2 separate regions of the Homo sapiens genome follow, and region 1 is linked to region 2. The links come from fine-mapping of genetic effects on gene expression. Tissue or cell type: whole blood. Region 2 holds a variant in brackets; the other region holds the start of a gene. All regions are shown on one strand. Distances are between the middles of the regions. Region 1 holds the start of NSUN7 (NOP2/Sun RNA methyltransferase family member 7). Region 2 overlaps NSUN7 (NOP2/Sun RNA methyltransferase family member 7).

Region 1 (4,394 bases), 62 kb before region 2:
CTCAGGTACATTTTGATTTTCTCCTCATGTCTGATTTAATGCTCTGGTCATATTACAGAGTGTAACTTAAACAAAAACTACATTTTTTTTTTTTACTATCCTGCTTTCACAACAATTGAACTCATATGCCTGTCTCTATGGTTACTTTTTTACAGTGTTCACTGAAATTTAATATGCTCTCCTCTGACCCTCCCCTCAAATACATTAAGTCCACAATGAGGCTATAAACCAGGAGTGAGAAGTAAGGAGGCAGGATTATATACATGATTAAAGTAAATAGTAACCATGAATTTGCTAACCCCACAACTCTTTGCCTAAGCTCTACCTTGGGGATAGAGACTCGTTAAACCTTGTTTTCAATATAGTAAACTGTTACTTACATTGAACTATTATTAAAGAAAATAAACTCTTCAAATTATATTTTGAATGACAATATTTCAAAGTTTATAGCTAGCTATTGCCTCACATCACTGTGTACTGGGTGATGCATGATAAAATATATCATGACCTCTAAGACACCTTCCATATTTGTAATCTTCTGTGAATGTCTGTATGTGAAAGAGAGTGATATTTTGCTAGCATCTGGGAATAAAAAAGATATATAATAAAAATGAAAAGATAAAGATAAAACAAGACTATTTTAGAGTGTGTGTGTTGTGTGGATAGAAAGATGGCAGAAGGGGGGTAATGCAGGTATGTACACGAATCTTTATAACAAAAATGAAAAGGTGACAAAATACAAATATATCCATCTTTAATTTCTTGAGGGCAAGGTCTTTGATCATTTCTTTTTTTTTTGAGACGGAGTCTGGCTCTGTCACCCAGGCTGCAGTGCAGTGGCCCAATTTCGGCTCACTGCAACCTCCGCCTCTCGGGTTCATGCCATTCTCTGGCCTCAGCCTCCTGAGTAGCTGGGACTACAGGCGCCCGCCACCACGCCCGGCTAATTTTTTTGTATTTTTAGTAGAGACGGGGTTTCACCGTGTTAGCCAGGATGGTCTCGATCTCCTGACCTCGTGATCCGCCCGCCTCGACCTCCCAAAGTGCTGGGGTTACAGGCGTGAGCCACCGCGCCCGGTCAGGTGTCTGATCATTTCTATACATTCATTATTTTACTTGTAGGGCTGAACACAATGCCAGGGACACAGCAAGAATTTAATATATACTTGTTAAACGAACGAATGAATGCATGTATACATAAAATGTTACGGAATGTTTAACGTATTCCGGGGATAATGAAAGTGGGTGGATTTCTGAGAGAAGGGGTCAGGGTTAGAGTTCTGTACTGCTAATTTTTTCCCCATTATCCATTCTCTCCTTCTTCTACAGTAATAGTTCCCTTATTTTTAGCTGGACACATTTACCAGCCTCTTGGTTGCTGGGTATATGACTGAGTTCTGACCAATAAAATGTGAGCCAAAGTGATATGTGCACCTTTCAGGTCATTGAAAAATATGGGCTGCCCTCTCTTTCCCCTTCATCCTACTAACCACTGGCTGGAAATGGAAATGGCCTTAGCCTAAAGAAGGAAGGGCAAATCCCTAAGGAGGAAAGGCAGAGGTGGAATTAGGACCAGTTGTCTTTCAACTATACCAGAGTTTTTCAAACTGTGGTCTTTGGGCTGATTGCATCAGAATCGCCAGTTACCTGATAAAAATGCAAATTACTGGGTCTTAGCAACTCAAATCTCTAGGATGGGTTCCAAGGATTTTTTTTTAGCTGGAGGCGGTGGTTCACGCCTGAAATCCCAGCACTTTGGGAGGCCGAGGAGGGAGGACTCCTTGAGCCCAGGAATTCGAGACCACCCTGGGCAACATAATGGGAACCCTGTCTCTGTTATTAAAAAAAATTATTACAGACGGCGCAGTGGCTCACGCATGTAATCCCAGCACGTTGGGAGGCCAAGGCCGGCAGATCACTTGACGTCAGGAGTTCGAGACTAACTTGATCAACACGGTGAAACCCTGTCTCTACTAAAAATACAAAAATTAGCAGGGTGTGGTGGCGGGCGCCTGTAGTCCCAGCTACTCGGGAGGCTGAGGCATGAGAATCACGTGAACCCGGGAGGAGGAGGCTGCAGTGAACCGAGATTGCGCCACTGCACTCCAGCCTGGGCGACAGAGCGAGACCATGTCTCAAAAAAAAAATTATTACTATATTTTAAAAATATTTTAAAGAATGTGTAGTTTTAACAGGGACTTCAGGAACTTGTGAGTTAAAACCACGGAACTACGTCAGACTACCTCAAAAATATCCCCAAATGTTTATAAACAAAGCCAAGGGCACGCACTCAGGCCCGGTGAGGTCCAGGAACTGTGCAAGAGGCCTCTGGCTCGGAGGGGCTGAAACAGGTGTCTCCGCGCGCTGGGGGAAGAGCGACTCTCCCGGCAACAGGTAGCACCCGCCAAATCCCGCGGGAACGGCCCTCGCGCCGCGCCCCCTGCCCCACCTCCGCTCGCGGTTGCCATGAAGACCCGGTCCGGGAGCAGTCGACTGCCGGAGACTCGGGAGGCTGAGCTTTCCTCGGCCTGAGCCAGCCAGACCCCGGGCACCGCGCTCACCCCTCTTCGCCGCCACGTCCGCGAAGGCCTCACGCGCGAGGCCAGGCGAGGCCCCGAGGCGCCCACCACTTCACGACACCGGAGCGAACCGGGCGCCAGAGGCTGCGACCCCCCTGCCCCGAATCCTGCCGGTGGGAGTGGCTGCATTTGAACCAAACGGCCTTCGCGGGCAGCAGCCGTCGCCCCGCAGTCCCGGGGCTCCCAAGGGCCTGTGACCGACGCCGCCCTCCGCGTCTTCGTCCCCGAAGCCCCGGGAACCATCCGCCCTCGGGGTAAGGGAGGAGTCGGGGGAGCCGGTGACTGGGCTGTGGGGACGCGGACGGGGCTCCGGGGGCAGCTCTGCCCCCAGACTGGCTTGAGGGAAGCCGTCGGTCTCCTTGGGGCTCTTCTCCCTCCGCCGCTGCACCCCTCCTCGCTTTTTTTTTTTTTTTTGAGCGTCCCAGGCTCGAAGTCTGGGACACTCAGATGGGACGGGAAATGCTCCCTCTTAGTCTTTAAGGCCACAACGAAGGGGGCCACCCACAGGGGTGCTGCAGAAAGAGTGATTTACTGCAATCACCTTCTCTCTTCACAGAGACCATGCTGCAGATGCGAGGAAAGCCGTTTCCTGGAACATCGGAATTCTAACCCCAGGGTGAAGGACTCACGACAGGCGAGGGGCAGACATGCTGAATTCCACGGGCGAACTGGAGTTTTCGAACGAAGAAGATCCCGAGATCATCTCCCAACTCACTTCCCTGCCTCTGTCCGGTGGGAAAAGCTCAGCTGGTGTGCCCGAAAAAACGGGCTATCCGGACTCCGTTTATGTCATGGCAGCCAACATTTTTCAGGGTATTCGAATCGAAAAGTCGGCACAGAAAGTCTTAATCAAGTATGGGAATGAACCCCTGCGGTCCTTGTCCGAGTCTGAGGATCAGTCCTTTCAGCGTTTGTCTTATGAGCTGGCTTTCAGTGCCCTGAAATGTGAGTTGTGCCAGTCTGGAAGATCAACACTAAAAGAAAATAATAGCGAGAGAATTTGGGGAATGCAGCCCTCCTCCTCCCTTCCCCTCATTCACACCAGGTTTTGGTTTTAGGCATGTGCATATCTTTGGTTAATTGCAAGTGTCAAGGAATTAGGGTTCCCATGAAACTAGCTCTTCCAGCCCAGGATTGCAGATTTCCCCGTGCACTGTGTTTGTCCTTAGATCGGTGTAGTGCGCGGTCATTACATTCAACAAGGAAACAATTTATTCCAATGATCATTTCCCTCTCCCTGTATTTTTTTTTCCCTCGTAGACTTAGGGGTCTCGCTTTATTGTCTGGGCTGGTCTCAAACTCTGGACCTCAAGGAATCCTCCCTCTTCAGCTTCCCAAAGTGCTGGGATTACAGGCAGTGAGCCACCACGCCTGGCCTCCCTGTGTATTTCTTTCCATTCCCTGTGTTTACCTTTTTTGGTATTTTAGTTTATGAGCTTTCACAAATATAAAACCAGTGAGGGAGGATGGGGAGAGGAACAGAGACGGAATAAAAAGAAAAGGTGCAAAATTTAAAAAATGAATATCAAAATTACACCAACCCCAATTAAGACTATCCCATTCATAGCCACTAGCTTTAATGGGAGGAGCCAAACTTTAGTAGAACTTCCCTTTCTAATTTGCTTTCAGGGTTTGAGACTCAAGGATGGTTAGTTATCAATCTGAGGCCAAGGGTGGTTGCTCAGGCCTGTAATCCCAGCACTTTTCGAAGCCAAGGTGGGAGGATTGATTGAGCTCAGGCGTTAAAGACCAGCCTGGGCATATAGTGAGATCTCCTCTCTACAAAAAAAAATTTAAAAATTAGCCCAGTATGGT
Region 2 (4,394 bases):
GCAGTTGATTTTTTTTCAAAGTCTAGTATTTCTCTGAAGATTCTACATCTCTACACAAGATATTCATTCTTTTGGTCACCTAGGGATCTTCTAAGTGTGATATTACTTTCAGAGAATTCAGACAAGTGAGAAACAATAATGTAGGAGTCAGCAAAGCAGAATTCAGAGACTTCAGCCAATCACTGCTGCTCTGAGAGGATCCAGTTAGAGACTCAGTATCAGCGGTCAGAACTTATCTCACTCCTGTGAACTTTCAGGCTGGACTTAAAGCTGCCAAGTTTCCCCTGCAGGGAAGGAAACACTGCCTCCCTTCAGCAGGTAGCTCATTAGAAAGCCAAACAGGCAAACGATCCTGGCCTCTCCCGCCAGCTGACCGCTCTTCAGCATCCATGCGGTTGTAGTCGTGACTTTCTCAGTCACGATCAAGGGTGATTTTTTCTTAAATATCAAGCTGTTCTTTGAACAGGGAATGAACATGAGTTTTTGTAACGTGACTGAAGTTGAGTTTAAGTAGGAAGCGCAGGAAGTTCCCAAGTGCCAGGTGTGTGTAGCTCAGAGTTCCTTTTACAGTGAGGTGTCTCTCACTGGGGGAGCTTCCAGGATCCTGAGCAGACTGGACACAATCATCTCTCCCTTCCTCTATGTCAAGCACTGTTACAAAAGACTGTGAGCAAATTTCCATCTAAATATTAATAATTCTGAAGAAGAGGCAAAACTGTTGAATGCAAGCGATACCTATTGTTGAAGAAACCCACAAATTTCTGATTCTAAGATCAGGGGATACAACAAAATCTACAAGTCATTTCAAATAGCACACAGGAATCAAACTTTGGTAAATCATTTCTGAGGCACAATTAAATATATTGTAGCACTATGTTAATTAATTATATTAAATGTCGATTCATCTTGAATGTATTCTCAATTGCCTACCAAAAATTGGTATGATTATCATTTCTGGGTCTACTGATTTTTCATCATGGCAACAGAAATTGTCATTAAATAGAATTAAGATACAACTATATATCTTATTATTTAAAAACATTCATAGACATATTCATAAAGTTTGAATTTAAAGTTTTATTTTTGCAATTCAGTTGTATAGAAATGTTACATAAATTCCTAAATGCTCAATTCAGGTGGCATGATTTTTAGAATATTATCTTCTTCAAGATGAATACTTAGGTCTACTTCAGCTCTGATATTCTATTTTTACTTTCTTACTTGAAGTGAGAAAAGAGAATGGTGAATTGTATTATAGCGGTAATACATTATTTTTATTTTAGCTTAGATTTACATTTATCAGTAAAACGTGTCAGTGGGCTGGGTGCAGTGGCTCACATCTGTAATCTCAGCAGTTTGGGAGGCTGAGGTGGGCACGCCACTTGAGCACCGGAGTTCCAGACGAGCCTGGACAACATGGCGAAACCCCAAAACCCCATCTCTACAAAAAATACAAAAATTAGCTGGGTGTGGTGGGACACGCCTGTAGTCCCAGCTACTTAGGAGGCTGAGGTACGAGGATCTCTTGAGTCCAGGAGGTGCAGGTTGCAGTGAGCCAATATTGCCCCACTGCACTCCAGCCTGGGAAGCAGAGTGAGACCTTGCCTCAAAAAAAAAAAAAAAAAAAAAAAAGTGTCAATGAAGAAAGGAAACAAGACTTTTTATAGTTGAACCAGGCTTAT[T/C]GTATTTTAAATCCCTGAAGAAGAATTCTTCATGTTATCACTCTTGTACAGAAAGATATAAAGTGCTCAGCTTATTTTGCTGATTTTGAAAATCAAACACTATCTCCTTGCCCTAAAATTATAGCGTGTGGCTCATCCTCTTATCCCACCCAGATTTCTATCTGGTTGGTTAGGGTAGTCCATGCCTCAAGGAAGGCGGTGCAGCTTAATTTAACATATTGTTCAGTAAAGAATCCCATTGTGTATCATAAGAATCCCTTATCCTTTTCGGGCCCTCCACCATACCAGACTGAAAAGTATTCCATTGTCCAGAAGTAGCTGGTCTTGAGATTTTTATTTTCAAGTGTATTTTCTGTGATGTTGTCTCATTGTTATGGAATAGTTTAGGATAATTTTCTGATCTCTACAGTAGCATGTGAAGTCACAATTTGTTGCCACTTACATTGATTATCTCCTAACATGCATTTGGCACTAAATTATTTTTCTCTTTAGAAGTATATGAAGATTCTGAATTAAACCATTCATTAATTACACTGCAGTTTTCTTCTTTGAGAATCTTCTATGAAGGACAGGATTATTTAAATACTTTGGTAGAGTGAAAAGGGAAAAGAATTTTGGATAAAAGCAATATGAGGCCGGACGTGGTGGCTCACATACTTTGGGAGGTTGGGGCGGGCGGATCACCTGAGGTCAGGAGTTCGAGACCAGCCTGGCCAACGTGGCGAAACCCTGTCTCTACTAAAAATATACAAATTGGCCAGGCGTGGCGGTGCATGCCTGTAATCCCAGCTACTCAGGAGGCTGAGGCGAGAATTGCTTGAACTTGGGAGGTGGAGGTTGTGGTGAGCTGAAATTACACCACTGCACTCCAGAGTAAGACTCCTCTGTCTGAAGAAAAAAAAAAAAAGCAATATGAGGGAATTCTAATGAAGGAGAATATTGATTCCACTGACATGTTTCATTTGGCATTTTACATTCTTGGACTTCTTCTTGAGATAAAAGTGCTGCAAAATTCTAAATAATGAAATTACTAGTATTCAGATACTCCAATAGCAAACACATTTTTAATCTGAAATTATTTACCACCATATAATGCCTGAAACCATAATGAAATTTTGTTACTGACTAGAGAGAAACCACTGTGGAAGTGCAAGATGAACAAAAAGCGGGGACATACTTTAAATTCTGTTTATCTGCCTTCCTGCGCCTAACAGTTAAGCTAAACCAGATTCAACTGATTTCTCTAGTTACCTTTCATTTTGGATTTAGTGTGTGTACACCTCTATTCTTTATTCTTTGATGTCAGGTTCTTAAAGGAAGTGATAAACTTCTTCGTGCTAAAATATCACAATCCTAGCAAGACCGCTTACAAAAGACTCGAGTTGGTGACTAAATAGGCTTCTATGTCCGGAAGGCCAGCTGGCCTTCCTGATCACCAAATAAGTACAGGGTGATTACTCAAAATTTGAAGTTACTTCCTAGTTCTTACCAGGCAGAAATATGTAGTAACTAATCAAAGCAAAATGCTCCATTACTAAAGTGATTTCTAAGAAGTCTGAGGTAAGAATAATTTAAAAATAACTAGAGACACCGAGTTTCTATTTCTATTCCTTGTATATGTGACTAAGATGTCAGATAAATGAGCCGAACGTTTTATGCAGCTAAATTTATTCTCACAACAAATTACATTTAAATGTGTAAAAGTGGTCAACAGGAAAAGGGCATAAAGGAAAACAAAGCGTTCTTTCAGGGGAAGTAAGCTGCTCTGGAGGCCAGGAACTACTGCTTGCGTTGACACGGTGTGAGTGGGTATCTTTGCCCTGAAGCTGAAGTTAAACTTTCTACTGGCCGTGTGGCACACACGTTAGATGTGTATTAGGTTAAGCCTGGCCAACTAGAGAGCGAAGGGGCTTATTAGTTAAATTGTGCTAATATCAGTTAGGAAAATGCTTGTCATGTTGTGGTGAAATCTTGAGGAGTTTGTGTTGCAATGCCTGGGACATGAACGGGCCATACAAACAGAGGAAAGCTCTGGGGCTTCCAGGCAATGGCCTTGTGTCGAGTCATCTTACAAGTGTCCATCTTGAAATCATAAAGTGGATTTAAAAAGAAGTAGCAGTGCCACAGTTTATCACCAAGAACTTATTTTAATGGAAATGGGTCTAATGTCCCTTCATGCAACAAGACAGATGAACAAAAAACAATGGTCCTAATTAGCTATGAGTGATCTTGTATCCAGGTGGAAACAAAGGGCATGTGTACATGTATATATCTCTTAGATGAAATCACACATGTTGTGAAGGGTAGAAAAACGAAGCACCAAGCAGTGCTTTAGTCTGCAAAGGAAAGTTTTTAGCCATAGGCATGTTGGCTAGTCGTTCCCCTTGATGTTGCCAAGGAGCAGATGTATGAGGTGGCAAGTCTGTGTCTATCTAGCTGCTTTTAAAAAATAAAAGGAACTTTAAGCATTTTGCCTTTTCTTCTACATATCCCAATAGAAATGTGACTACAAATCATTACAAAACCACTTTTTAGGCAATGTATAGTTCACTGAGATTACTTAGATCTGGATACACTGGGAGATAATATCCAGGAAAGATAATACATTAACACAATAATGCAGTATATTTCAGTAAAAATAGAATAAATAAAATAAAAATATTTTAAGCTGTATTTAACAGGTTAATTAAAAATATGGTAAGACATAGAAGG

The links.
Region 1: NSUN7 starts here. The variant in region 2 is fine-mapped to the expression of NSUN7 in whole blood (TOPMed, PIP 0.98).

Annotation. Positions count from the first base shown.
Region 1 is chr4:40,747,468-40,751,861 of GRCh38, forward strand. It overlaps NSUN7 (NOP2/Sun RNA methyltransferase family member 7), which reads left to right and starts at 2,488. Exons shown (of 12, transcript NM_024677.6): 1 at 2,488-2,833; 2 at 3,136-3,524. The coding sequence starts at 3,227.
Region 2 is chr4:40,808,970-40,813,363 of GRCh38, forward strand. It overlaps NSUN7 (NOP2/Sun RNA methyltransferase family member 7), which reads left to right. Exons shown (of 12, transcript NM_024677.6): 12 at 1-2,215. APBB2 (amyloid beta precursor protein binding family B member 2) reads right to left here. Exons shown (of 18, transcript NM_004307.2): 18 at 1,058-4,394. Among named protein-coding and RNA genes, the nearest start is that of NSUN7, 61 kb to the left of the region's middle. The variant T/C (reference allele first, on the strand shown) is at 1,683.